Regions from separate parts of the Homo sapiens genome. Here region 1 is linked to region 2. Evidence: fine-mapped expression QTL. A gene starts in region 2. The other region holds a variant in brackets. All regions are shown on one strand. Distances are from middle to middle. Region 1 overlaps ORAI2 (ORAI calcium release-activated calcium modulator 2). Region 2 holds the start of PRKRIP1 (PRKR interacting protein 1).

What was found.
Region 1: its variant is fine-mapped to the expression of PRKRIP1 in whole blood (TOPMed, PIP 0.97).

Annotation. Positions count from the first base shown.
Region 1 is chr7:102,433,940-102,446,979 of GRCh38, reverse strand. ORAI2 (ORAI calcium release-activated calcium modulator 2) reads right to left here. Exons shown (of 4, transcript NM_001126340.3): 2 at 10,647-10,755; 3 at 7,799-8,036; 4 at 1-467. The coding sequence starts at 8,023. Among named protein-coding and RNA genes, the nearest start is that of ORAI2, 6.9 kb to the right of the region's middle. RefSeq lists enhancers at 1-488, 1,858-1,937 and a silencer at 12,996-13,040. The variant C/T (reference allele first, on the strand shown) is at 4,298.
Region 2 is chr7:102,389,168-102,405,603 of GRCh38, reverse strand. It overlaps PRKRIP1 (PRKR interacting protein 1), which reads right to left and starts at 9,241. Exons shown (of 6, transcript NM_024653.4): 1 at 9,067-9,241; 2 at 7,906-7,984; 3 at 5,956-6,056; 4 at 921-1,006. The coding sequence starts at 9,192. It overlaps LOC100630923 (LOC100289561-PRKRIP1 readthrough), which reads right to left. Exons shown (of 9, transcript NR_038967.1): 5 at 7,906-7,984; 6 at 5,956-6,056; 7 at 921-1,006. RefSeq lists enhancers at 8,723-9,264, 9,046-9,285 and a silencer at 9,306-9,385.

The DNA of each region.
Region 1 (13,040 bases), 43 kb before region 2:
TTGTGGCGCTCCGTTTTGTGGCGCACCAGGGAGCGGTAGAAGTGGATGGTGAAGACCACGAAGATGAGGCCCACGGGCACCATGATGATGGTGGACACCAGGGCGGCCTGCCAGCCCGTGTGACTCCCAGGGCCAGGTGGGGGGCCAGGCTGGCGCCGGGCATCCACGGGGAGGAACTTGATCCAGCAGAGCAGCACCACCTCGGCCAGGAAGAGTAGGATGCCAAGCACGGTGGAGAAGCCCCAGGCCAGCTCGATGTAGGGGTGCATGCGCTCATGCGGGGACTCGCTGATGGAGTTCAGGTTGTGGATGTTGCTCACGGCCTCCACATTGGGCAGGATGCAGGTGCTGATGAGGAGGGCGAACAGGTGCACGGCCACCAGCACCGTGGTGCAGGCGCTGAAGGCAATCAGCAGCGGCCGCGGGTACTGGTACTGCGTCTCCAGCTGCACCTCCACCATGGCCACCTGCGGGGACAGCAGACGAGTGGTGCTGGGTGTGGAGAGGGCAAGGTATGGCCCCACCAGGGCCACCTGCCAGGCAGAGCAGGGGCTGGGCCAGGTTCGGGGGACAGGGTAGCCATGGGCTTGCCTGCTGGCAGGACTCACCCATGTTCTGGGCCCTGGAAGACCAGAGGGCAACCTCCTCACTGATCAAATGTTTCACATTTTCCTTTGTTCTAATTATCTAAAGAAGACTGCACTGAGAAAAACATCTCAACAGTACAGAAGAGGCCAGCGTGGTCGCTCACGCCTATAATCCCAGCACTTTGAGAGGCCAAGGCTGGTGGATCACTTGAGGCCAGGAGCTGGAGACCAGCCTGGCCAACATGGTGAAACCCTGTCTCTACTAAAAATACAAAAAGCAGCCGGGCGTGGTGGCAGGCACCTGTAATCCCAGCTACTCGGGAGGCTGAGGCAGGAGAATCACTTGAACCTGGGAGGTGGAGGTTGCAGTGAGGCAAGATTTCACCACTGCACTCCAGCCTGGGTGACACAGTGAGACTCTGTCTCAAAAGAAAACAAGCCACGAAAGTTAAAGAAAGAAAAGAAAGGAAAGAAAGAAAGAGAGAGAAAGAGAAAGAGAGAAAGAAAGAGAGAGAAAGAAAAGAAAAAGAAAGAAGGAAAAGAAAGAAAAGAAAGAGAAAAGGGAGGGAGGGAGGAAGGAAGGAAGGAAACAAAAGAAAGAAGTGAAAAACTGGCTGGGTACAATGGTTCATGCCTGTAATCCCAGTGGTTTGGGAGGTTGAGGCAGGAAGATCACTTGAGGCCAGGAATTCCAGGCTGCTGGGAGCCCCGATTGCACCACTGCACTCCAGCCTGGGGGACAGAAGGAGACCCTGTCTCTATAAAAAATACAAAATTAGCCGGGCATGGTGGCACATGCCTGTAGTCCCAGCTACTGAGGAGACTGAGGTGGGAGGATCGCTTGAACCCGGGAGATAACAGGCTGCAGTGAGCTATGATCACACCACTACACTTCAGCCCGGGTGACAGAGTGAGACCTCGTCTCTACAAAAAAAGGAAACTGACCTTTCAAAAGGTAAAAACTGACCAGGCACGATGATTCATGCCTGTAATCCCAGCACTTTGGGAGGCAGAGGCAGGAGGATCGCTTGAGCCCAGGAGTTTGAGACCAGCCTAGGCAACATAGTGACAGCCCATCTTGACAAAAAAAAAAAACAAAAAACGGAAACTGACCTTTTAAAACAGAACAACTGAAAGTGCGGAGAGTCCCCAGACTCAGAGCTGCACACCTGGATGGCCTCAGACAGACCACATGGTGCCTCCTCAGCAGAGGCCAAAAGCCCAGTGAGAGCCGGCATCTCTAAAGCTCGGGAAAGGTGACGGAAGTGAGGCCGAGGGTGAGGAGGGAAGCTGTGGAAAGGAGGCATGGCTGGGTCTGCTAAGGAAGCAAAATCATCAACCGTAGTCGGAGGCTACAGCAGGTAGAGTCTAAAACGAACAAACCAAGGAACGGCAGGCTCTGCTTGGTGTCTTGAAATGTGAGGTCAGCCAGGCGCGGTGGCTCACACCTATAATCCCAGCACTTTGGGAGGCCGAGGTGGGTGGATCACTTGAGGTCAGGAGTTCAAGACCAGCCTGGCCCGCATGGTGAAACCCCGTCTTTACTAAAAATACAAAAAATTAGCTGGACGTGGTGGTGGGCATCTGTAATCCCAGCTACTCAGGAAGCGGAGGCAGGAGAATCACTTGAACCTAGGAAGCAGAGGTTGCAGTGAATGGAGATCATGCCACTGCACTCCAGCCTAAGTGACAGAGCAGGACTTTGTCTCAAAAAAAAAAAAAAAAAAGAAGAAGCCTGGGGAAGGTTCTTCTACCCACTGTTTCCACTGTTTCCCTCCTAGACCTAAGCCATCCCTGTTTAAAGAAAAAAAAACAACAAAACTCAGGCCAGGTGCGGTGGCTCATGCCTGTAATCCCAGCACTTTAAGAGGCTGGAGGGTGGGGGGCGGGGGGGGGCGGATCACTTGAGGTCAGGAGTTGGAGACCAGCCTGGCCAATATGGCAAAACTCTTTCTCTGTGAAAAATACAAAAATGAACCGGGCATGGTGGCTCGTGCCTGTAATCCCAGCTACTTGGGAGGCTGAGGCAGGAGAATCGCTTGAATCTGGCGGGCAGGGGTTTCAGTGAGCTGAGATCATGCCACTGCACTCCAGCCTGGGAGACAGAGTGAGACCCTGCCACAAAAAAATAAATAAATAAAATAAAATAAAATAAAAAAATAACTCACAAGGCTGGGCCCCGGAGTTAGAGGCTGCAGTGAGCTATGAATGTACCACTGCACCCCAGCCTGGGCAATGGAGCGATATCCTGTCTGGGGAAAAAATAAAGTAAAAGATAAAATAAAATAATATATATGAAGATTTCATAATGTCCTTCAGCAACTGCCACCTCTTAGCAGCTCATTTCTTCACCTCGCTTTCAGTGGTGAGGGAACACTTCCTAGATAAAAGAAGATATGGCCGGGTGCCTGTAATCCCAGCACTTTGGGAGGCCGAGGTGGGCGGATCACCTGAGGTCAGGAGTTCGAGACCAGCCTGACCAACATGGTAAAACCCCATCTCTACTAAAAATACAAAAATTAGCTGGGCGTGGTGGTGGGTGCCTGTAATCCCAACTACTCGGGAGGCTGAGGCAGGAGAATCTCTTGAACCCGGGACGCAAAGGTTGCAGTGAGCCAAGATCGTGCCATTGTGCTCCAGCCTGGGAGACAGAGCGAGACTACATCTCAAAAAAGAAAAAAGAAGACATGGCAGTCCTAGTGGACCAGAGCCGAAAAACAACTCAGCAGTAATACAGTTGGGGCCCTTGTGAAACGTATCCAAAAACCAGTAGCCACGGAACATGGGCTGAGGGGTGGTTTTTCTCAGTGTGGCCCTGGGTTGGCTATGGTCACCTCAAAGGAAATGGCCCAAGTGACAAATATTACAAACCACAGAGGCCTCCAAGACAGGAAATAAAGATGATTATGAGGTAGGGGCAGGGCTTGCAAAAAGTGGTTTTGTTCCACCTTAAAAGGAGAAAAGCGGGCGCCTGTAGTCCCAGCTACTTGGGAGGCTGAGGCAGGAGAATGGCGTGAACCCGGAAGGTGGAGTTTGCAGTGAGCCGAGATCGCGCCACTGCACTCCAGCCTGGGCGACAGACAGCGCAAGATTCCGTCTCAAAAAAAAAAAAAAAAAAGGAGAAAAGGGGCTGAGTGAGGTGGCTCACACCTGTGATCTCAGCACTTTGGGAAGCTGAGGCGGGAGATCACTTAAGCCCAGGAGTTCAAGACCAGCCCAGGCAACAAAACGAGACCCCATCTCTATTAAAAAAAAAAAAAAGAAGAAGAAGAAGAAGAAGAAGAAGAAGAAGAAGAAGAAGAAAAGAGAAGGCAATTTTTCACTGTGTTTATGCAGCATTTTTTAAATTTAAATTAATTTTTTTTTTTTTATTGAGACAGAGTCTTGCTCTGTTGCCCAGGCTGGAGTGCAGTGGCGCTGTCTCGGCTCACTGCAACCTCTGCTTCCCGGGTTCAAGTGATTCTCCTTCCTCAGTCTCCCCAATAGCTGGGACTACAGGCATGCGCCACCACGGCTAATGTTTTTTTTTTTTTTTGAGACGGAGTCTCCCTCTCTGTTGCCCAGGGTGGAGTGCAGTGGCATGTTCTCGGCTCACTCCAACTTCCCCTTTCCGGATTCAAGTGATCCTCCCACTTCAGCCTCCCGAGAAGCTGGGGTTACAGGTGCCAGCCACCACGCCTGGCTAATTTTTGTTTTTTTGTTTTTTGAGA[C/T]GGAGTCCTGCTCTGCCACCGAGGCTGGAGTGCAGTAGAGCGATCTTGGCTCACTGCAACCTTTGCCTCCCGGGTTCAAGTGATTCTCGTGCCTCAGCCTCCCGAGTAGCTGGGACTACAGGCGTGTGCCACCACGCATGGCTGATCTTTGTATTTTTAGTAGAGATGGGGTTTCACTGTGTTAGCCAGGATGGTCTCCATTTCCTGACCTCGTGATCTGCCCGCCTCGGCCTCCCAAAGTGCTCAGATTACAGGTGTGAGCCACTGCGCCCAGCCTAATTCTTGTATTTTTAGTAGAGACAGTGTTTCACCAGATCGGCCAGGCTGGTCTCCAACTCCTGACCTCAAGTGATCTGCTCACCGTGGCCTCCCAAAGTGCTGGGATTATAGGCATGAACCATGGCGCCCGGCCCTCCTTTTCATATTTTTAGTAGGGACAGGGTTTCCCCATGTTGGCCAGGCTGATCTGGAACTCCTGACCTCAAGTGATCCGCCCACCTCAGCCTCCCAAAGTGCTGGGATTACAGGCGTGAGCCACCCCGCCTGGCCTATGCAGAGGTTTTATGAGGTGGGGCCTTGGATCACTGGTTCTCTGTGTTGGGGGAAGAATACGCATCAAGAACTAAGCTTCAGGTTAGGCATAAGCACGTGTTGCTAGACAAAGGAACAGCTTTGCAATTCTAATGAGGGAAGACACACTATAAAGGGCGAACTCTACCCAGCAATCTGTACCTTTGCCTGTTCCCAGGGCCCTGCCCCGACTCAGCTACAGTTTCTGATGATTTGTATTTGTCACTTATTTTTCCCAGGCTGCCCTGCAGTGTGAAGAACGATCTGACCGGATGGCGCTATGCTAATCTAATCAAGCAGGTGCACTGCGGCTCCCCCAAGGCTCAGCTCCACGCCAGATGGTTCACTTGCTTCCCACTGCAGCTGGTGCTCTGTATCTATGAGTTCCACATCTGCAGATTCAACCAACCGCAGGTCAAAAATACTTGGGGGAAAAAAACAAAATGAAACAACAATATTTCTCCCTTGGTATAAGGTGAAGAAAAAAATAACAATAATTAAAGAAAAAAAAAACCAGCCTGGGCAACATAGCAAGAGCCACCTCTGGTTTTTTTTTTTTCTTTTTTTTTTTTTTGAGATGCAGTCTCGCTCTATGGCCCAGGCTGGAGTGCAGTGATGCAATCTCGGCTCAGTGCAACCTCCGCCTCCCGGGTTCAAGCAATTCTCCGTCTCAGCCTCTGGAGTAGCTGGGATTACAGGCATCTGCCGCCACGTCCAGCTAATTTTTGTATTTTTAGTAGAGACGGGGTGTCACCATGTTGGCCAGGCTGGTCTCGAACTCCTGACCAGGTGATCTGCCCACCTCAGCCTCCCAAAGTGCTGGGATTACAGGCGTGAGCCACCACACCCAGCCAGCTTTTTCTTTTAAATTGCACCATCAATCTAACAATTGAGGCTCCGGCCTACAGAAAAACAATAGAGGCTGGGCACGGTGGCTCCTGCCTGTAATCCCAGCACTTTGGGAGGCCGAGGGTGGCGGATCACCTGAGGTCAGGAGTTCGAGCCCAGCCTGGCCAACATGGTGAAACCCCATCTCTACTAAGAATATCAAAATTAGCTGGGCGTGGTGATGTGTGCCTGTAGTCCCAGCTACTCGAAAGGCTGAGGCAGGAGAATCGCTTGAATCCAGGAGGCAGAGGCTGCAGTGAGCTGAAATCACACCACTGCACTCCAGCCTGGGTGACAGAGCAAGACTCCATCTCAAAACAAAAACAAAAACAAACAAAAAGAAAAACAATAATTGTTTTCACATAAGGAAACAGGCTGGACAAGGTGCAATGCTAGCACTTTGGGAGGCCGAGGTGGGAAAATCACTTGAGAGTTCAAGACTGCAGTGAGCCATGATTGCACCCCCGCACTCCAGCCTAGGCAACAGAGCAGAGAACTTGTCTCTGAAAAAAGAAAAAAAAAATTAGCCAGGCATGGTGGCACGTGCCTATAATTCCAGCTACTCAGGAGACTGAGGCAGGAGGATGGCTTGAGCTCAGGAGGTAGAGGCTGCAGTGAGCCATGATCACACCACCGCCCTCTCCAGCCTGGGCAACAGAGTGGGACCCTGTCTCTAAAAACAAAACAAAAAACAAATAAATCACTTCCACCCAATAGGACCTGTGAGCATACTGTTGTGTCCTCACTGTGAGTCCTTAACCTCTGGGACAATTCCCTCCAGGGGTGTGGGTCAGCGGCTTTGGAGTCAACAGGAGATGGGCCCCTTGTCAGAGCCGCAGCTTTGTCGGAAACTGACTCTTGTCCTAGGGGATGACTCAGAAGGAAGGCGGCCGCTGGGAGCCAGGCCAAAAGCTCTCCTTTGTCACCCTGGAGGCCAGATTCCAGGAACGTCTGCATCGCTAACTGGGCTAAACTGATCCAACCCCAATCAATCTCTGAGGCCCTGCTCAGAGATCCCTGAGAGTTCCAAACTTTTGGGTGGTGCCTGAGACGGGGCAGACATGGGCGCCTTTTCTCAGGAAACCCTGTACCATGCAGCGATTTGATTTGATTTTATCTTTTTAATTAATTAATCTATTTATTTCGAGACAAAGTCTCACTCTTGACCAGCTGGAGTATAGTGGCGTGACCTTGGCTCACTGCAACCTCCGGCCTCCCAGGTTCAAGCGATTCTTGTGTCTCAGCCTCCCAAGTAGCTGGGATTACAGGCGCCTGCTACCATACCCAGCTAATTTTTTTGTACTTTTAGTAGAGACGGTGTTTCACCATGTTGGCCAGGCTGGTCTCGAACTCCTGATCTCAAGTGATCCACTCACCTCGGCCTCCCAAAGTGTTAGGATTACAGGTGTGAGCCAACACGCCTGGCCAAAATAAATAAATAAATTTTATTTTTTCTTTTTAGAGATGGGGTCTCACTCTGACGTCCAGGCTGGAGTGCAGTCGTGTGGACATAACTCATTGAGGCCTCCACCTCCTGGACTCAAGTGATCCTCCTGCCTCAGCCTCCCAAGTAGCTGGGGCTATAGGTGCACGCCACCACGTCCGGCTAATTATTTATTTTATTTTTGTAAAGACAGGGGTCTCCCTGTGTTGCCCAGGCTGGTCTCAAACTCCTGGCCTCAAGCTATCCTCCCACCTTGGCCTCCCAAAGTGCTGGGATTACAGGTGTGAGTCACAGAACCTGAGCTACTATAATTACCCCGCACCAACCTCCCTCCTTGCTAAGCAAATACTTGATGTGAACAGGACAAAGTGGGCTTTCTGAAGATTCTAGAGCTGGGAGCCCCTGGCAACTCCCAGCGCCCCCACTCGCACTGATAGAGTCGTCCTCTTAGAGCAGCTGGGACGTGGGTGGATGCTTCCTACTGGTCCATCCTGGCTGCCAGAGACTGGAGGGAAGGCTCTGGTCCCTGAGGCATCCCGGGACCTCAGTTAGCAAAGCCCATCTGACCAGTGTGCTCCTCACTTGGCGCCCACACTCACCATGGCAAAGCCGGAGAGGAGGGCGGAGGTCCTGCTGGAGGCCTTCAGCTTGGCCCTGCTCAGGTAGAGCTTCCGCCACGACAGGGCCTGTACCGAGTGGTGGTTAGAGGTGACCAGTTCCAGGTAGCTGCGGCGGACCCAGTCCCGGTAATCCATGCCCTTATGGCCGGGCTCAGGGCAGGCAGGAGCAGAGGGGTCGATAGGCACGTTAAGCTCAGCACTCATGGTGGGAGCCAGGCTAAGGGTGGGAGAGAGACATGCTCAGACATCCTAGGTTACTGCGGCCTGGAAGAGCTAGACTCCAAGCCCATTCAACCTACAGAGGCTGCCATATACAGCCCACGCCAGAGCCCAGGGGTTTAGAAAGTGCCCAGGACCTAAAGTTATGTTTCTTTGTTTGTTTGTTTTTGAGACAGTGTCTCACTCTGTCGTCCAGGCTGGAGTGCAGTGGGGCAATCTCACCTCATTGGAAACTCCAGCTCCTAGGTTCAAGCAATTCTCCTGCTTCAGTCTCCTGAGTAGCTGGGATTATGTGTCCGCCACCACGCCTGGCTAATTTTTGTATTTTTAGTAGAGACGGGGTTTCATCATGTTGGCCAGGCTGGTCTCGAACTCCTGACCTCAAGTGATCTGCCTGCCTCAGCCTCCCAAACTGCTGGGATTATAGGTATGCGCCACTGCGCCCAGCCTTCCAGGACCTAAAGTTATGAAACCTGGATTTGACTCTACTGTGTGATTCTGAGCATGACAGCTGACCTTTCTGACCTGGCTCTTTCATCGTGAGAATGGGGATATTTCCACCTGTAGGACTTTTTATTTATTTTTATTTTATTTGATTTGATATATTTTTTTGAGACAGTCTCGCCGAGTTGCCCAGGCTGGAGTGCAGTGGTGCAATCTCTGACTCCCGGCTTCAAGCGATTCTCCTGCCTCAGCCTCCCAAGTACCTGGGACTACAGACGCCCGCCACCATAGCTGGCTAATTTTTGTATTCCTAGTAGAGATGGAGTTTCACCATGTTGGCCAGGCTGGTCTCAAACTCCTGACCTCAGGTGATCCACCTGCCTCAGCCTCCCAAAGTGCTGGGATTACAGGTGTGACCCACCGCGTCCAGCCTACTTTTTTTAAAAATAGAGACAGAGTCTCATTCTGTTGCCCAGGCTGGAGTGCAGTGGTACGATCACAGCTCACTGCAGCCTCGAACTCTTAGGTTCAAGGGAAGCTTCTGCCTCAGCCTTCTGAGGAGCTAGGACCATAAGCACAGGACCATGCCTGCTAATGTTTTAATTTTTCCTAGAGACGGGAATCTCACTATATTGCCCAGGCTGGTCTTGAACTCCTAGCCTCAAGTGATCCTCCCTCTTACACCTCCCAAAGTGCTGGGATTACACGTGTGGGCCACTGCACCCGGCCTCACCTCTAGGGCTTTTGAATAAGATAATGCATCTGAAGACGAAAGACTTCTTCCAACATCCAGGTGCCAGCCATGGAATAAACATTTCCAAGTAGCTGCTAGTTTCACAGATCCAACTTACATTTTATTATTTTCTAAATTTATTTATTTTTTGAGACAGAGTCTCGCTCTGTCACCCAGGCTAGAGTGAAGTGGCGCAATTTCGGCTCACTGCAACCTCCGCCTCCTGGGTTGAAGCCGTTCTCCTGCCTCAGCCTCCCGAGTAGCTGGGATTACAGGCATGTGCCACCATGCCTGGCTAATTTTTATATTTTTAGTAGAGACAGGGTTTCGCCATGTTGGCCAGCCTGGTCTTGAACTCCAGAGCTCAGGTGATCTGCCCGTCTCAGCCTCCCAAAGTGATGGGATTACAGGTGTGAGCCACCGCACCTGGCCTTCAACTTAAATTTTGATCAGTACAGTTCACCCTAAGAAAAATATTGGACTTACATAACTAAAGCCACATCCAAGCTACAAGGCAAACTTTTAGCAAGATGAAAAATGAAATCCACCAACTCACATGACCACATTTTAAGGAGAAACAGAAGGCGGAGATGCCTGGACTCACACCTGGTAAACATCTGGTTTGACTAACACGGATTAAACATCAGAAGGACAGATCTGTCAAGATTTGTGAATTTAAACCCAAATCTCCACTAAGTAGGGGATTGGCGGTCGCGTGTGTCCCAAGGAGCTGGGCTGCTCGGCCACACGCCAGGATCCAGTTCTAATTAATCTGCAGGGCGTGCTTCAAGGGCACAGGCATCTTGTGGTTTACTTGACATCAAAAAGAGTGACTTTTCCAGCCTGGCCAACATGGTGAAACCCTGTCTCCACTAAAAATACAAAAATTAGCCAGGTGTGGTGGCGGGCTCCTGTAATCCCGGCTACTCGGGAGGCTGAGGCAAGAGAATCGCTTGAACCCAGAAGGCGGAGGTTGCAGTGAGCCAAGATTGCGCCACTGCACTCCAGCCTGGGTGACAGAGCAGGATTCCGTCTCAAAAAAAGAAAAGAAAAGAAAAAAAAGAAACGAAAAGAGTAACTTCTATGTCCAGGCCCACATAGGCCCCACGGAAAGTCTATGTCAGGCTGTTACACACAGATCCGTGTTTCTAGGTCCCAGGGAGCGTGGCTGGGGTGGACGGGTGGAGTGGGGAGTGCTTAACAGGGTCAGCAGCTGAGGAAATGCCCCAAACTTAGTCCATCCATGCCAGAGTCGAGCCCCCCATAATTGAAAATGCCCCAATTTGGAAATTACGCAGGAAGGTGCTGGAGGTGGAAAACAGTGTCGCCTTTCCCTTTGTTCTCAACAAGGCTACAAAGCCACAGCCTTCCCTGGCCAACAAGACCTCTGGGAACAGTTCTGTGCTATTTCTGCCAGGGGATGCCAATTACCAGGTCATTTATACGAATGCCAACTCAGGCTCTCCATCCCATCTCCTTGCGCACATCCGCAGCCAGCAGCACCGCATCCAAGCACTTCCATCCCTGGGACGTTCCTTCCCTTGGGGAGAATTCAGAGAAACGCTGCAATCCGTAGGTTAGCTCCACATAATAGAAAATGCTGTAATTTGGAAACTGCATTTTTCCTCTCCCCCCACCCCCATAGTTAACAGAATTGAGCATGCAGGTCTGATGACCGCAGTATACAGAGACTGGAGGGGTGAGACGCTAACCTTTGCTCCCTCCGTCCTCCCTCCTCCATCACACAGGTGCTTAGCGCACTTGGTACTTAAAGATCCAAGATGAAAGAGGCCAGAATTCATGGCCTCCCAGTAGGGGAGCAAGGTAAGGGGATGTGGGTCAGGAGCAGTAGCTCACACCTGTCATCTTTGGGAGGCTGAGGTGGGCGGATCACTAGAGGTCAGGAGTTCGAGACTAGCCTGGACAACATGGTGGAAACCTGTCTCTTCTAAAAATACAAAAAGTAACTGGGCATGGTGGTGGGCGCCTGTAATCCCAGCTACTCAGGAGGCTGAGGCAGGAGAATTGCCTGATCCCAGGAGGCGGAGGTTGCAGTGAGCTGAGATCCTACCGCGGCACTCCAGCCTGGGTGACACAGTGAGACTCTGTCTTAAAAAAAAAAAAATAGCTGGGTGTGGTGGCAGAGGTTGCAGTGAGCCAAGAGCACACCACTGCACTCCAGCCTGGGCAACAGAGCGAGACTCCATCTCAAAAAAAAAAAAAAAAAAGAGGGGGGGGCAATCCTCATCCACTGAGCTAAAGGCTTCAATGGAGGGCAGGGAGCAGAGGACTGGCTGCCTCACACCAAGGCCAGGAAAAGGTGCTTGCAGGTAACACCGGGGAGGGGACAGAGCGGCCCTTTGCATGCCAAAGTGCCTCATGCCTGTAATCCCAGTGTTTTGTGAGGCCAAGGTGGGAGGATCACCTGCGGCCAGGAGCTGGAGACCAGCCTAGGCAACAGAGTAAGACGCTGTCTCTAAAAATAATTTTTTTTGACATGGGGTCCTGCTGTGTTACCAAGGCTGGAGTGCAGTGGCACAATCTCAGCTCCCTGCAAATTCTACCTCCCAGGCTCAAGCGATCCTCCCGCCTCAACCACCCGAGTAGCTGGGACTACATGTGTGTGCCACCATACCTGGCTAATTTTTGGTATTTTTGGTAGAGACAGGGTTTTGCTATGTTGGCCAGGCTGGTCTAGAACTCCTGAGCTCAAGTGATCCGCCCACCTTGGCCTCCCAAAGTGCTGAGATTATAGGCATGAACCACTGCGCCTGGCCTCTAAAAAGAATTTTAAAAAAGAGGGACCTTTCCTCAAAGACAAGATGCTGCCTGCATGGAAGGATTCCGAGAGACGGGAAGGCCACTCCAGGTGTACATGTGGGGTGGCTCTCCTTGTCCAGGAGATATGGAGGGAAGACTGGCTGCCACCTGGGGGGTGGAGGGGGCAGGGAGATGTGGGTGGAAGACACTTGGAGCCTGGGGCTGTGGAATGAGCCAGAGGGTCTGGGCAGCATGACTGGGCGTCCAGCCACAGGAGAATGGAAGAAATTGGTGAGTGGAACGGTCTGGGCACTGCTAGATCATTCTGGTTTGGGACCACAGTTCAACCCAGGGAAATGGCTGGCCGACTGGCAGGAGTGGGACGCAAGGGAGAGCCTGGTGGCCTCCAAAGGAAGGAAGGGTGAACAAGAGGGATGCCCCATCAGTAAGGGTGGGCTGGGCTCAGGTCTGAGAGTGGAGGTGAAGAGCTCAGGGCAGTGAGGGCTGAGGGTGGCTTCCTGGGAGCCGCCAGGCCTCCCATGCCCCATCGGTGAGGCCCTGCAGATGTCCCCAGAGTGGGTGGGATTGTGGAGGAAACGATGTCTGTCTGCCTGGAGCTGGGTCTTGAGACAGGTCTCCAGGTCTCGAAGGAGCAGCCCAGGAGGGGGTTCAAATCCATCCTTTATGTTCCCAATGCCAACTGTGTGTGCCAGGCCCGGTGGCCCAGGGGGAGGGACAGAGTCTGGGCCTCACACTGGATCCCAGGCAGGGGGTGGGGTGGGGCAGGATGGAGCCCTGTACTTCTGTCAGGTGGCACAGACCCTAGAGGATGCTCCGGGACTGAACCTTGTGGGGTTGCTTTTTTTTTTTTTTTTTTTTTTTTGCTTTAATGAGCAGTCCGAGAAAACAGGTCTTGTAGAATAACGCGATCCCCTCTCTAGAGATGAGCTTTTCTTCCTGGCTGGCCTACTGGACACATTTCCAGAGGGCGGTCTTGGAGTTTGACTTCCTCTAAGCATCTGGGGCACCGGCAATGGCGAGTGTCTCTCTCCAGCAGGCGCACTG
Region 2 (16,436 bases):
ATTATTGTAGAGACAGGGTTGCACTTTGTCACCCAGGCTGGAGTGTAGTGGTGCGATCATAACTCACTGCAGCCTCAGCCCCCTGGGCTCAAGCGATCCTCCTGCCTTGGCTTCCCAAAGTGCTGAGATTACAACTGTGAGCCACCATGCCTGGTCCCTAAAGATGCTTTTTCATTTCAAGATATTTAGGGGCTGTTGTTAGAATCCTCCTCAGCTCTCATTGTAAAAGTTGAGAGACCACTTATGTAAACACACAGATACACATATAAACATACAGCCTATATACCATGTAGTCACTTGAGGGAGTCATAAACCGTAATTTAAGAAACATGCTAAATGGGAAGTTTGGTTGCAGCACCTTGTTAAAATACAGATGCGGCCGTGTGTGGTGGCTCATGCCTGTAATCCCAGCACTTTGGGAGGCCGAAGCAGGCGGATCACCTGAGGTGAGGAGTTCAAGACTAGCCTGACCAACATGGTGAAACCTCGTCTCTACTAAAAATATAAAAATTAGCTGGGTATGGTGGCAGGCACCTGTAATCCCAGCTACTCAGGAGGCTGAGGCAGGAGAATTGCTTGAACCCAGGAGGCGGAGGTTGCAGTGAGCCGAGATTGTGCCACTGCACTGCAGCCTGGGGGACACAGTGAGACTTTGTCTCAAAAAAAAAAAAAAATACAGACCTGAAGGAGACACAGAAATCAATGTGATCACTGAAGTCCTGACTTGCAAGCTCTGGACAATCTGTAACCAGTTGGAGGGTCATAAGGAACTTGCTCTCTGCTCAGGTAGTAGAAGTCATTGCTCTACATTCATGACCCCTACAGGTCATGCAGAGGAACTACTACTGACTGCAAGGACAGCTCACCCAGCCACCACCCCTGGCCCTTAAGTGTCATCACAGTTAGGCCATGCCGCTTACCGCTTCTTCCGGCGCTTTGCGGTCTGCTCCTCTGCAGCAATTTTATTCTTTTCCAGTCTTTTCTGAAACTCTGCATCCAATTTTTGCTGCAACAAAACCCACATCATTTAGACACGCTCTGGTCTGGGCAGACTGTGGGAGGTTTTGCTCAGGCAAAGTAGGAGAGTTCTAGAAGTCACACCACTGGGGGTGACGGAGGCACTACCCGGGTCCCCAGGGCCATTTTAACTTTAAAAGGCTGTCCCAGAGGCAGGGCAGGTAATCAATACATAGGTCTCCGATGGCGAAGTAACTCTTTTAGTTGACTGAGGCACCACTCATGCATAGCACAATATAGGAGACAATACAGGAGGGAGTGCAGAGGACACTCTGAGGGCAGCGCTCACCATCTGCTCAGCCGGGGCCTTGGATACTGCCCAGAGCTCATCAGAATGAATGGCCGGAGGGTCAGAACCATGGAATTTTCAAGCCCTAAGCCCAACCATAGTTACCAAATGGCTGAGTTTTTTTGTTTTTGTTTTGAGACAAGGTCTTACTCTGTCGCCTAGGCTGGAGTGCAGTGGCACAATAGCTCACTACAACCTTGAACTCCTGGGCTTGATAGATCGTCCTGTCTCAGTCTCCTGAGTACTTGGGACTATGGGTGCATGCCATTACATCTGGCTAATTTTTATGTTTATTTTGTAGAGACAGGTCTGGCTATGTTGTCCAGGCTGGTTTTAAATTCCTGGCCTGAAAGGATCCTCCCACCTCAGCCTCCCAAAGTGCTGAGATTACAGGCCACTGTGCCCAGCCACCAAATGACTGATTCTAAAGCAGCGTAACACACGCCATCTGCTGCCATGACCTGCTGCTAAGCACACACCCACACCCACACAGATATTTGTAAGTACTGCATTACTTCTTCTCAGCAGTTCTGTCTCCAAGCCTCAGTCTACTCATCTATAAAATGGGGAAAATTGTAATTCCTCTCTCCCAGAGCTGTTAGGAACAATAATGAAATAAGGGTTTGGGCACAATGGCTCATGCCTGTAATCCCAGTACTTTGGGAGGCTGATACTCAGGAGGCTGAGACAGGAGAATCACTTGAACCCAAGAGGCAGAGGTTGCAGAGACCGGAAATTGCGCCACTGCACACCAGTCTAGGCGGCAGAGGGAGACTGTCTCAAAAAAAATAGAAAACCACCTGTAAACTACAAAGACATCTACTGATTCAAAGTGTCATCTCTTGTTTCTTCCAGTCACAGCCATAAAGGTCAATGGAGCAAAAAATAAGGAGCCGGCAAAGGAGGAAGAGGTGCCTTCAACACCTCTGCTGGTCTGCACCGCCAGGGCTGTACGCATCTGCTTACAGTGGCACAGAAACCAAACCAAACAAGCCCTCTCTCTGAGGGCAGAAAATATTCCTTCAGGAAGGAAATCAACTTTAATTAATCAACTTTCTGGACAACCAAAAAGCAAATGACTTAAATCTAAAAGATCTGATTTGCTTAGAAGCTGAGCTGTGAAGTCCGGGTGCGGTGGCTCACTCCTGTAATCCCAGCACACTGGGAAGCTGAGGTGGGCAGATCACCTGAGGTCCAGAGTTCGAGACCAGTGTGGGCAACATGGTGAAACCCTGTCTCTACTAAAAACACAAAAATTAGCCAGGCCAGGTGGCAGGCACCTGTAATCCCAGGTACTCGGGAGGCTGAGACACTAGAATTGCTTGAACCCAGGAGGCAGAGGCTGCAGCAAGCCAAGATTACACTCCAGCCTGGGTGACAGAGTGAGACTCTGTCTCAGAGAAAAAAAAAAAGCTGAGCCGTGAATGTCTTACTCTGTGCTGCTGAAGAAGCCAAATTTACCAGCAAGTGAACTAAACAGAGCCCCCGCTGGCTGCCGCACCTGGCAGAGGCAATGTCTCAAGCAGGGGTGAGTGGGACTGGGCTCTGATGGAGGTGATCTGTCACTAAAAAATGAGGACGTGCTTGCCTTTTTTTTAAATCTCAGAGACTGTCTTTTGCCATCCAAAATAAGAATCTTTGCATTTGCATAGAGGCCAAGGTTTGTGAAACATTTTTCTGTATTTTCTCTGAATCTTGAATCAATACATAAAAACTTCAGACGAATTTATAGTGTTTGAGACAGCAACCTACTCTATGTCCTCCCCTCTAAAATAGTTTATAAAAGTGTTTCTTCTGATAGTAGTTTCTTTTCCTTTCTCTCCCTCCCTCACTCCACCCCCCACCCCCTTTCTTTCTTTTTGAGACAGCGTCTGGCTCACTAACTCAGGCTAGAGTACAGGGTGTGATCACAGCTCACTGCAGCCTTGACCGTCCAGGCTCAAGCGATCCTCCTGCCTCAGCCTCCCAAGCAGCTGGGACTACAGGTGGCTACCACCACATCTGGCTAGTCTTTGTATTCTTTGTAGAGATGGGGTCTTGCCACGTTGCCTGGGTTCAAACTCCTGGGCTCAAGTGATCTTCCCACCTTGGCCTTCCAAAGTGCTGGGATTACTGATGTGAGCTGCCGCACCCAGCTTGATGGTTTCTATACACAGAGCATTATTTTTGACAGGCAAACCCACTGCAGTGACCTGGTAGAATTTTGTGACAAAAACTGTCTAATACTTCTCACTAGGATTGAGACTGTTACCAACAAAAGATGGCAGAAACAAGAAGAACCACCAACACCCAGGGGCCAGGAAAAACTACAGGACAAGCAAGTATCAGTTGACAGCCAGCACAACAATGACCCCATTCTGTTTCCAGAGCAGGACATTTTTTCTTCTTCTTTTTTCAGAAGGAGTCTCACTCTGTCGCCCAGGCTGGAGTGCAGTGGCACAATCTCAGCTCACTGCAACTTCCGTCTCCCAGGTTCAAGTGATTCTCCTGCCTCAGCCTCCCAAGTAGCTGGGATTACAGGTGTGCACCACTGCGCCTGGTTAATTTTTGTTTTTGTTTTTTTTGAGACAGAGTTTCACTCTTGTTGCCCAGGCTGGAGTGTAATGGCGCAATCTCAGCTCACCGCAACCTCCAACTCCTGGGTTCAAGCGATTCTCCTGCCTCAGCCTCCCGAGTAGCTGGGATTATAGGCATGTGCCACCACGCCCGGCTAATTTTGTATTTTTAGTAGAGATGGGGTCTCACCATGTTGGCCAGGCTGGTCTTGAAATCCTGACCTCAAGTGATCCACCCACCTTGGCCTCCTAAAGTGCTGGGATTACAGGCATGAGCCACCACGGCTGGCCCCCCAAAGCAGAATTTTTTCTAACTCAATTTTGGCCATTCCAATAAATTCTTACATATTTTCTTCTGTATCCTGGCTGTCTCTTTGGTTTAAATTTTCCCTAATGTTTTATTTTGAAAATTTCAAACAGAAAAGTTAAAAGAATTATACAGCAGATATATCCACTGCTCTTTGACTCAACAATTCCTGTTGTGCTGGATTTTCTTTATCACACACCTATTGATCTATCCATACCTCTATTGGTATGCACTGTATTATGTCTTCCCAGCAGTCCTGTTTCCAAGCCTCATTTTCCTCATCTATAAAATGGGGAAAATTATGATTCCTCCCTTCCAGAGCTCTACTCATACATCTATTCCTCCACTAATTCATCATTTTTTTGTTTGTTTGTTTTGGTGCATTTCAAAGTAAGCTGCAGACATCGGGAAGTTCCATTCTTGAACATTCAAGCATGCACGTTATTAAATAGGGTTTCATATTTGTGTATGCTTTTCTTCTTCCTTTTAAAGTAATAGCTGGCCGGGCATGGTGGCTCACGCCTGTAATCCCAGCACTTTGGGAGGCCGAGGCAGGTGGATCACTTGAGGTCAGGAGTTCAAGACCAGCCTGGCCAACATACTGAAACCCCATCTCTACTAAAAATACAAAAAATTAGCCAGGCATGGGGGTTGTGCCTATAGTCCCAGCTACTCAGGAAGCTGAGGCAGGAGAACCACTTGAAACTGGGAGGTGGAGGTTGCAGTGAGCCAAGATCACCCCACTGCTCTCAGCCTGGGCAACAAGAGCAAAACTCCATCTCAAAATAATAAATAAAGTTAGTATCTACACAGAACCAAATGCCCAGATCTCGAGTGTACAGTTTGATCACCCCAGAAAGTCCCCTCATACGTCTTTTCCCAGTCAACCGTGACCCCAACCAGATAACCAGTTTTTTTTTCTCACACAAACTAATTGTACCTGCTCTAAAACGTCATATAAATGAAATTACACAATATGGTCTCTTTCGTGCAAGGCTTCTTTTACTCACCATGTTTAAAGATTCATCCCAGTTGCTGTACAGATCAGTAGTTTGTTCCTTTTTATGGCTAAATATTACAATATTTTATGATTATTTCTTGGTGTTATTTTTTTTTTCCTTTTTTTGAGATGGAGTTTCACTCTGTCGCCCAGGCTGGCATGCAATGGTGCAATCTAGGCTCACTGCAACCTCCACCTCCCACGTTCCAGCAATTCTCCTGCCTCAGCCTCCTAAGTAGCTGGGACTACAGTTGCCCACCACCACGCCCAGCTAATTTCTGTATTTTTAGTAGAGACGGGGTTTTGTATTTTTAGTAGAGACTCTGCATTTTGTGCTGTCCGTAGAAGGCAGACCTCACACCAGCCACAACTAGCAGTATCTATTCTTCCTCAAACGCTTTTTTCTTTTCTTTTCTCTCTTTTTTTTTTTTTTTGAGATGGAGTTTCGCTCTTGTTGCCCAGGCTGGAGTGCAATGGCACGATCTTGGCTCACTGCAACCTCCATCTCTTGGGTTCAAGAGATTCTCCTGCCTCAGCCTCCTGAGTAGCTGGGATTACAAGCATGCACCTGGCTAATTTTGTATTTTTAGTAGAGACAGAGTTTCTCCATGTTGGTCAGGCTGGTCTCAAACTCCCGACCTCAGGTGATCCCCTGCCTCGGCCTTCCAAAGTGCTGGGATTACAGGCCTGAGCCACCACGCCCAGCCTCTTCAAATGCTTTTTTCTAAAGAAAGTACACGCACACTGCCCAAACATGGGGGCTCAGCCAGCCTTCTGGCTCACTGACCTTCTCAGCCATGGCATCCATGTAGTCCTGTCGCTGATATTCTCTCCGGCGCAGATGTCTGTACACGTGGAACTCTCCACTGCCGGCCCCAGCACTTGAACCTGTAGCCAGAACAGTCCACAGTTCTAGATGAAATTCAGTTACCAACACAGGTCACCCTTAATCGAGGGTGACTAAAGAAACAAAAAGTGGAAGTCGTGGAAGGGACCATGCCTTCCTTTCTCCCCACTGTATCCAGAACTGGCCCAGTACCTGGCATATTGTAGATGTCGTGAATTATTTGTTCTATGAATGTTGAATGTAAAGTCACTAAAAATCCCACTCAAATGCAGTATCAGGAGGGGCAGACTGTGGTTAAGTGACTTTCTCACCTCCTCCATGATTTCACATTTGACACGCTAAATTTCTAGTGAGTTGAAAAGACATCCATGATACATTAAATGAAATAAAGGTGCTTACAAAGTTGTATATGTAGAACAATCATATTTTTGTAAAAGTGTTTTTTCTTCAGCTTTTTTCTTTTTTTTGAGACAGGGCCTTGCTCTGTCACCCAAGATGGAGGGCAGTGGCGCAATCACAGCTCATTGGAGCCTCAACCTCCTGGGCTCAAGCCATCCTCCTGCCTCAGCTTCCCAAGTAGCTGGGACCAGAGGCATGCACCACTATGCCTGGCTAATTTTTACATTTTTAGTAGAGATGAGGTCTTCCTGTGTTGCCCAGGCTGGTCTCAAACTCGAGCAATTCTCCTGTCTCGGCCTCCCAAAGTGCTGGGATTACAGGCACGAGCCACCGTGCCTGGCCTATGTTGCTTTTTAAAGACATAATGCTATTGCACATTAAACTACAGTAGAGTATAAAGAAAACTTGTATGTGCAGTGGGAAACTAAAGAATTTACATGATTCCCTTTATTGCGACATTCACTTTAACTAGGTTGCCTGGAACTAAACCCGCACCATCTCCATGGTAAGCCTGTAGATATGTTAATTTATGATCCAACAAAATAATAAAACTATTTTTATTTACAAAAAAACCACAATGCGTTATTAAGAATAATGCAGGAGATGGCCGGGCACTGTGGTTCACAGCTGTAATCCTAGCATTTTGGGAGGCTGAGGCGGGCGGATCACCTGAGGTCAGGAGTTCAAGACCAGCCTGGCCAACATAGTGAAACCCAGTCTCTACTAAAAATAAAACAATCAGCCAGGCATGGTGGCACGGGCCTGTAGTCCTAGCTACTCAGGAGGCTAAGGCAGGAGAATCGCTTGAACCCGGAAGGCGGAGGTTGCAGTGAGCCGAGATGGTGTCACTGCACTACAGCCTGGGTGACAGAGTGAGACTCTGTCTCCAAAAGAAAAACAAAAACAAAAACAAAAACAAAAAAAACCGCAATACTGCAGGAGAAAATTCTATAGTGCCAAACCATAAGCAACTATAGCCCTTAAGCTAAATTTACCAATGTCAAATGAAAAACAAATAAAAGCAACTATATCCCCGTCATTGTAAAAGCAAAACACGAACATGTGAACACACATTTCCCCTCATCAGAGATTTAACAAATACCAACTACAGGATTTTTATAGCTACCTTTTTTTTTTCTTTTTGAGACAGAATGTCGCTCTGTTGCCCAGGATGGAGTGCAGTGGCGCCATCTCGGCTCACTGCAAGCTCCGCCTCCTGGGTTCACGCCATTCTCCTGCCTCAGCCTCCCAAGTAGCTGGGACTACAGGTGCCTGCCACCACGCCCGGCTAATTTTTTTTGTATTTTTAGTAGAGACGGGGTTTCACCGTGTTAGCCAGGATGGTCTCGATCTCCTGACCTCATGATCCGCCCGCCTCGGCCTCCCAAAGTGCTGGGATTAGAGGCATGAGCCACCACGCCCAGCCTATAGCTACCTTAAAAAATTATATTTACACACACACACACACACACACACACACACAGCCATTACCCATGACATCTCGGACAAATTCTGGGGGAGGTCGAGGTGCCCATTCACTCATTTTCTCTGGAATTGGAACTGCTTTGTCCTGCAACATTTAAACATGAAAGCATTTAAGTATAAACCTGTTGACAAAATTATATATCTCCCTCTCTTTTTTTAGAGACAGGTTCTTGCTCTGTTCCTCAGGCTGGAGTGCAGTGGTGCAATCAGAGCTCACTGCAGCCTTGAACTCCTGGGCTCAAGTGATCCTCCCGGTTCAGTCTCCAGAATAGTTAGGACTCTCAGGCGTACACCACCACACCAGGCAATTTTTTTATTTTTGTAAAGACAGGGACCCACTATGTTGCCCAGGCTGGTCTTGAACTCCTTCCTGGCCTCGGACCATCCTCCCGCCTGGCCTCCCAAAGCGCTGAAATTACAGGCAGGGGCCACAGCACCCAGCCCAAGTTACATCTCTTAAGACCAAAGAATTTTAATTGACTAATGAAGCAGGACTGCTTTGCTACTTGGACACAGAGCTGATTTTGTGTTCTTCCCTCTGTCGTGGCTTTTTTCATCCTATGTACTCTTGGGTATAACACAGTCCACACCTTCCCAGGGCTACGCTTTCCAGAGCAGAACTGAAAAACCTAAGCCATAGTTTCCAGCTAGAAACCGCCAACTTTAACACTACTAGATAAGAAGAGTCAAGCTTTTCTAGTTAAAGGTATAAAGGACGTTCCCGTTCAATTGTTTTTATGATTGAGGGGACCGAGGCCCAGAGGGGGTGTGAGCGGGAGAGGAGTGACCAGCTCCAAACGTCTCGGCCACTGTCTCTCTAACGATCAGTGTTGTTTAGAGTATACCCTTTTGCTAACCCACAAATTCTACCTTTTCAGTCTAACGCTTTTTGTTCACAGAAAGTTAAACCAGAAGGGGTCTTGGAGCACGGGAAGCCGCTCCACCGTGCTTTGATTCAAGCTGGGCTCTCACACAAGGACAGACGGGAAGTTCACTATCTCCGGGACAGCCTCCTTCTCCTCCTCCTCCCCAAAGACTGCTCTTGGAGGGTCGGATACTGAGTTTCTGAGTTTGGAGGCGGGGAAGGTGGACCTGCGGGAACCCTGAAGCGCTGCAGAGGAAGGGGGTGGGCCTCGGACGGGCCGTGGAGCCTGGGCCTCGTCTCACCGGGTTCTTCATGAGCCGCTCCAGCTTGAGCTTCTGCTCCTCCGCCGCATTCTTGGGGATGACGAGCGTCTGCGGCTCTTTCTTGGGCCTCGGTGGTCGCACCGAGGAGGCGGCTGGGCTAGCCATGGCAGCCTTCCAGTTTCACAAGCGAGCGGCGGCGTCGGCGCGCAAGTATGACGACACAGCCGCGCGCCGGCGACGCATACGCAGTCTCCGCAGAGGGGAACGGAGGCGGGGTTGCAAGGCGCAAGCAGCCTGCTGAATATTCATGAGCCTGAGGCTGGCGTGGGTTATTGTGTTCAAAGCTGCGGGGTTTCATTTCCTGTTCCTGAACAACAAATCAGTGCAGCTAGATGCTCACGTCCCTGAAGGGGAGGTGGCCCTCCGTGCCTGAGTAGCCTGGCCCTAGCCGACCTCTCCAGTCCCCGCGGGCGTCTTCGTGCCACCGAGCAGCCCCGCTGATGCTCTCGGCACCTCCTCCCCGTCGGCTCTCCTCGCCTCCCGGCTTTGTCCGGGCACTTCCTTGGATCTGGTGCCCCCTCCTCCATTTCTGACAATCTCCTGTTTACATAAGACAGCGCAAACATGTCACTGAGCTTCCTGAAGACTGGGACATTCCTCCTTTGTCCGCCTTGAATTACTCTATACCTGGCCCCCCGCAAATACACCTCTGCCAATGAATGACCGTCTCGTAGTGTGAGGCACAGTAATAAACCTAAGGAACCATGTCTGCTCATTCTGCTTGCGAGCAGGATTTCACAAAGGCCGTGACTCGGTGACTGAGCGCAGCCCTCTCCAATAACGCCCTGAACAATAAGCTGGGAAGAGCGAGAGAGAACACAGGTTTCCACCTCTCTTGCCTGAACACTGCATTTTTAGAAAAGACAAGTTCAATGATCCTAGCCCCTGCCTCTTCCTGTACATAATCTCTGACGGGATTAATGATTATGCTTCTATAACTTTTTTTTTTTTTTTAGAGACAGGGTCTCGCTTGGTTGCCCAGGCTGGAGTGCAGGGGCTCGATCATAGGTCACTGCTGCCTTGAACTCCCGGGTTCAGGCACTCCTCCCACCTCAGCCTCCTGAGTAGCTGAGACTACAGGCGCATGCCACCACACCCAGTTAATTTTTTATTTTTATTTTTTGCAGAGACAAGGTGTTGCTGTGATGCCCAGGCTGGTCTTGAACTCCTGGGCTCAAGCGATCCTCCTGCCTGGGCCTCCGAAAGTGCTGAAATTATAGGTGTTAAGTCACCATGCCCAGCCAAGCCTCTGTAATCTGTAACTAGATAATACCCTCACACACAGCCTTGATGAAATTTTGCTCTATTGTTAACTTCTGAGCACATTAGATATAACTTTTTTTTTTTTTTTTTGAGACAGAGTCTCACTCTGTCCCCCAGGCTAGAGCTCAGTGATGCAATCTCGGCTGACTGCAGCCTCTGCCTCCCAGGTTCAAGTGATCCTCCTGCTTCAGTCTCCTGAGTAGCTGGGAATACAGGTGCACGCCACCACGCCTGGCTAATTATTGTATTTTTAGTAGAGATGGAGTTTCACCATGTTGGCCAGGCTTGTCTCGAACTCCTGACATCAGGTGATCCACCCGCCTCAGCCTCCCAAAGTGCTGGGATTATAGGCATGAGCCACCACGCCCAGCTTGATATAACTTCTGAGCACATGCAGGGCACCACCAACTGTATATAAATGTTTTTATATAAACTGTATATAAATATAAATATATAAATGTGTGCTGAAACTCTGTTTTGGAGCAGTTTAACAAACTCTGTGAAAGACTTTCCCTGGTTACAGTCCTCAGTAAGATTGCAAAAAACCAACCTTAATTTTTTAAAAGCCTGATTTTTTGTTTAGTTGACATTGAGAAACAGAAAAGGCCCGGCATGGTGGCTCACACGTGTAATCCCAACGTTTTGGGAGGCCGAGATGGGCAGATCACTTGAAGTCAGGAGTTTGAGACCAGCATGGCCAACATGGTGAAACCCCATCTCTATTAAAAATACAAAAATTAGCCAGGTGTGGTGGTGTGTGCCTGTAATCCCAGCTATTCAGGAGGCTGAGACAGGAGAATAGCTTGAAACTGGGAGATGGAGGTTGCTGTGAGCCAAGATCGTGCCACTGCACTCCAGCCTGGGTGACAGAGCAAGACTCTGTGTCTAAAAAAAAGAAAAAGAAAAAGAAAAAAAAATTAGAGAGAGAAAGAGAAAGAGAAAAGCTGTTGCTCACATACATTTGGTGTTACAGACCATAGGCTGTTTGGCTCCCCTTGTAATGAAACTTAACAGGGATCCAAGCAGATTTCCCAGACAAGGCATTTATTTCAGAGCTTGTGCTTGAGTGCAGGGAAGACAATGGAAGCAGAAGTGAAGGGATCCTCCAGCTGACTTGTGGAAGAGCCAGTGGGGAATTTTTTTTTTTTTTGTGAGACAGAGTGTTGCTCTGTCGCCAGGCTGGAGTGCAGTGGTGCGAACTCAGCTCACTGCACCTCCGTTTCCCAGGTTCAAGCAATTCTCCTGCCTCAGCCTCCCGAGTAGCTGGGACTACAGGTGCACGCCACCACGCCCGGCTAATTTTTTGTCTTTTAGTAGAGACAGGGTTTCACCATGTTGGCCAGGATGGTCTCAATCTCCTGACCTCATGGTTCGCCCGCCTCGGCCTCCCAAAGTGCTGGGATTACAGGCATAAGCCACTGCGCCTGGCTGGGAATTTTTTTTATTAGGCAAAGCATGGGAATTGACATCAGGGGTAGGGTATGCAGGCTGGGCTGGGCAAAGCACGTGAGGGTATGCAGGTCGCATATCTGGTTTTGAGGGTATGCAGGTCGCATATCTGGTTGCGATGGTTATCTTAAGTAATGAGTCACCTGGTAGTCTGGCTGGTGGCAACAAGGGTGTCAATCAATTGTTCAGCATTCCTTCCCGAGGTGGGACACTCCGCAAGCTTCATTTGATATTTGGATCTCCTAAGGCCAGTCTCTGGAATTCTTTTTTTTTTTTTTTTTTTTTTGAGACAGTTTCGTTCTTTATTTTCTTTGTATGACTAAAGCCTCGGGGTTAGCAGCTATATTGTCAGCGAGGCAATGGTGTGGGTTTTGTGATCAGTGGGACAAAAGAAGGAAAAAGGGAAAGGATGTGAAGGAGAAGCTCTGTCCAGTTCCTGTTCTGTTTCCCTGGGAGCTGGACAGACATTCACAGCTGGGTCTTGGTGTTCTCTTGTCAAACAAAAGTAATTTCCAGGACACCAACATCACACAAGACCATTCCGTGACCACAAAAACCTGGTGTGGTGGCTCATGCCTGTAATCCCAGCACTTTGGGAGGCCGAGGTGGGCAGATCACCTGAGGTCAGGAGTTTGAGACCAGCCTGGCCAACATGGTGAAACCCCGTCTCTACTAGAAATACAAAAAATAGCCAGGCGTGGTGGTGCACACCTGTAATCCCAGCTACTCGGGAGGCTGAGGCTGGAGAATTGCTTGAACCTGGGAGGCAGAGGTTGCAGTGAGCTAAGATTACGCCTTTGCACTCCAGCCTGGGCGACAGAGCAAGACTCTGTCTCAAAATAAATAAATAAATAAAAATAAAAATAAAAGAAACATTTGCTGGAGGGACATGGGCTCCTAGGGACAGGGTCGCCCTCCCACTGAGTCCCCAAGAGGATGAACAGGTGGACAAGTGGATGGTACCTGGAGGGTGAAGTGTTTGTTCTCCAAAGGTCATTCCTGGCTGCCCAATAGTGGGTGGTTTTCTAGGAGCTCAGGGTGGAATTAAGGGTCCTTAGTGGCCCAGGTCTGTCACTGGAACCTGGGGAGGGCTTGGCCTGGCTGGGGCCATGCACACAAACTCACCCAGGATCACACACATTAGCAACCAGTACCTCACTTTTCTCCAAACACTCCACAGAACGAAGGTTTTTGTCTACAAAACAAAGCATCTTTTCCTCCTTGGAGAACTCCCATACAGGCTTCTCAACTTGGCCAAAATGCTACCTCCTCCAAGAAGCCTTCTCAGATTGCCTCTCCCACCCCTCACTTCCAGGAAGTGAATTGCTCCCTTCTTGGTGCTCTCCCAGCTCTGAATCCCAATAACTGGTGAAGTAGTTACCACTATGTCCTCACCATCTGTGTCCCCATGGGCTTGGCAGTGTGGTGGGCTGGGCCAGAATCCCAGCATCTAACCCTGGCATGGTGTAGAGTGGGTACTTCCAGGATGCTTGGAGAATAAAGGAATGAAAACATATATGAAGACTGAATAGACGTGTCAGTGAGATGAGCAAGTGATGGATGAATGAATGAATAAGGACATTAAGAGAAAGAATGAAGACTCAATCAATAAAAGGACACTTAATAAATGAACATGTGAGGCCACGGACTATCAGAAAGCCACAGAGCCAGGAGTGCGGGGCAGTGTCTGTCCGGTTGGTAAAGGTCTCCCTGGCACCCCCAGCCTCAGTGTCTGTCACAGAGCTGGTGCTTGGCAGATATCTGCTGGATGAAAGTTAAGCGAATGAATGGAGTGAAGGAATGCATGAAGGCAAGAGAGAGTTAAGGCATGTGGGTGTGAAGGAGCTGGTAATAACTTCAGTGTCTAAGTCTGGTCTAAATTGTGGACATATTTATCAGCAGATATATGTTTTTCAATAGACGGGGTCTCACTCTGTCACCAGGCTGGAGTGCGGTGGTGCCAGTATAGCTAACTGCAGCCTCGAACTCCTGGGCTCAAGGGATCCTCCTGACTCAGTGTCCAGAAAAGCTAGGGCTACAGGCAGGTACCACTATGCCCAGCTAATTTTTCACATTTTTTGTAGACATGGGGTATTGCTATGTTTCCCAGGCTGACCTCAAGCAATTCTTCAGCCTTGGACTCCTGAGTAGCTATGACAACAGGCTGGTGCCACCACACTCAGCTAACTTTTTATTTTTATTTTTTGAGAGGGAGTTTCTCTCTTGTCACCCAGGCTGGAGTGCAATGGCGCGATCTCGGCTCACTGCAACCTCTGCCTCCCAGGTTCCAGCGATTCTCCTGCCTCAGCCTCCTGAGTAGCTGGGATTACAGGCACCCGCCACCATGCCCGGCTAATTTTTGTATTTTTAGTAGAGACAGGGTTTCGTCATGTTGGCCAGGCTGGCCCCGAACTCCTGATCTCAGGTGATCCACCCGCCTCAGCTTCCCAAAGTGCTGGGATTACAGGCGTGAGCCACCTTGCCCAGCCTAATATTTTATTTATTTATTTATTTATTTATTTATTTATTTATTTATTTGGTAGAGCTGGAGTCTTGCTATGTTGCCCAGGCTATCATCCTGATTCTACTGAAATGGAACTGAGGCCCAGAGGAGAAAGCAATTGGCTCAGGGCCACACAGACTCAAACCCAGCAGTCTAGCCCTGGGTCTGTGACAGCCTGAGTGATTATGTGACTCACACAGATGGGACAGGGCCCCAGCAGACCCTGGCGGGAACCCTGGTGGCACCCTCCTAGGTGGCACCTTCCTGGTGGCACCTTCCTGGGGCTGAGGTCAGATTTGAGGTCCGGCTCCCTGGGATGAAAGGCCGCCTCACAGATGCCCACAAGTCTCACACCCAGGGTGATGTCCCTTCTGCCACCAGAGGGCAGCAAATCCCCACCCAGGTCCCGCCACTAGGAGCCTTAATCCACCTTTCCTGAGATCCAGAACTGGGCACCCAGGGAGCAAGGTCTACTGGCTGGAAGATACCAGTGCGTTGCAGACTGGCAGACTGGGTGCCACCTACCCTGGGCTTGCACAAGCAACCTAACCTCTCTAAGGCTGTTTCCTTATGTGCAAAATTGGTACAAGCGAATCTACCTTGTCGCTGGCACATGGGTAAAATGACGTTTGGACATGCAGTGTCCAGCAGAGCCTGACATTCAATAACATGGCTCACGCCTGTAATACCAGCACTTTGGGAGGCTGAGGCAGGTGGATGATCTGAGGTCAGGAGTTCGAGACCAGCCTGGCCAACATGGTGAAACTCCGTCTCTACTAAAAATACAAAAAAAATTAGCCGGGCGTGTGGGGTGGGGGGAGCTGCCTGTAATCCCACCTACTCGGGAGGCTGAGGCAGGAGAATTGCTTGAGCCCAGGAGGCGGAGGCTGTACTGAGCCAAAATCGCACCTCTGCACTCCAGCCTGGGAGACAGAGAGAGACTCTGTCTGAAAAAAAAAAAAAAAAATAGGTGACCACACTTGTCCTAGTTTGATCCTAGGACTGAAGGGTTTCCCAGAAAGTGGGACCTTCAGTGCTAAAACCAGGAGAATCTTGGGCAAGCCAGGATGGTTGATTACCCTAGACGAGTGGGTACTCCTATCTCAATTCTTTGAGTAGTGGTTGATACTTTAAGTACTAAAACAGCAGGGTTTTTTTTCTTTTTTCTTTTTTTCTTTTCTTTTCTTTTTTTTTTTGAGACAGAGTTTCACTCTCGTTACCCAGGCTGGTCTCAAACTAGAGAAATGAAAATATATGTCCACTGACTGACCTGTATGCAAATACAAACAGTAGCTTGATTCATAATTGCCAAAAACTGGAAACAACCCATATGTCCATCAAATTGAGATCTAGACCTACAGGGAAATACTACTTAGCAATAAAAGGAAGGAGCTTTTGCTGAGTGCGGTGGCTCATGACTGTAATCCCAGCACTTTAGGAGGCTGAAGAGGGAGGATCACTTGAGGCCGGGAGTTCAAGACCAGCCTGGCCAACAAGATGAAAGCCTATCTCTACTAAAAATACAAAAATTAGCTGGGCATGGTGGTGTGCACCTGTAATCTCAGGTACTTGGAAGGCTGAGGCAGGAGGATTGCTTGAACCCAGGAGGCGGAGGTTGCAGTGAGTCGGATTAAGAAGGTGGATTAAGATATCATACCACTGCACTCAGCCTGGGCGACAGTGAGACCCCATCTCAAAAAAAAAGGGGACCAGGTGTGGTGGCTCATGCCTGTAATCCCAGCACTTTTGGAGGCCGAGGCGGGCAGATCACGAGGTCAGGAGATCAAGACCATCCTGGCTAACAGGGTGAAACCCAGTCTCTACTAAAAATACAAAAAAATTAGCCAGGTGTGGTGGTGTGCACCAATAGTCCCAGCTATTCAGGAGGCTGAGGCAGGAGAATGGCGTGAACCCGGGAGGCGGAGCTTGCAGTGAGCCGAGCTCGTGCCACTGCACTCCAGCCTGGGCGACAGAGTGAGACTCCATCTCAAAAAAAAAAAAAAGAAAAAGAAAAAAGAAAAAGGAAGGAAGGACCTCTTGAGGCTTGCAATAACGTGGATGGATCTCAGATGCATTATGTTTAGTGAGTGAAGTCAGATCTATTAATAGAAGGCCACAACCTGAATGGTTCCAT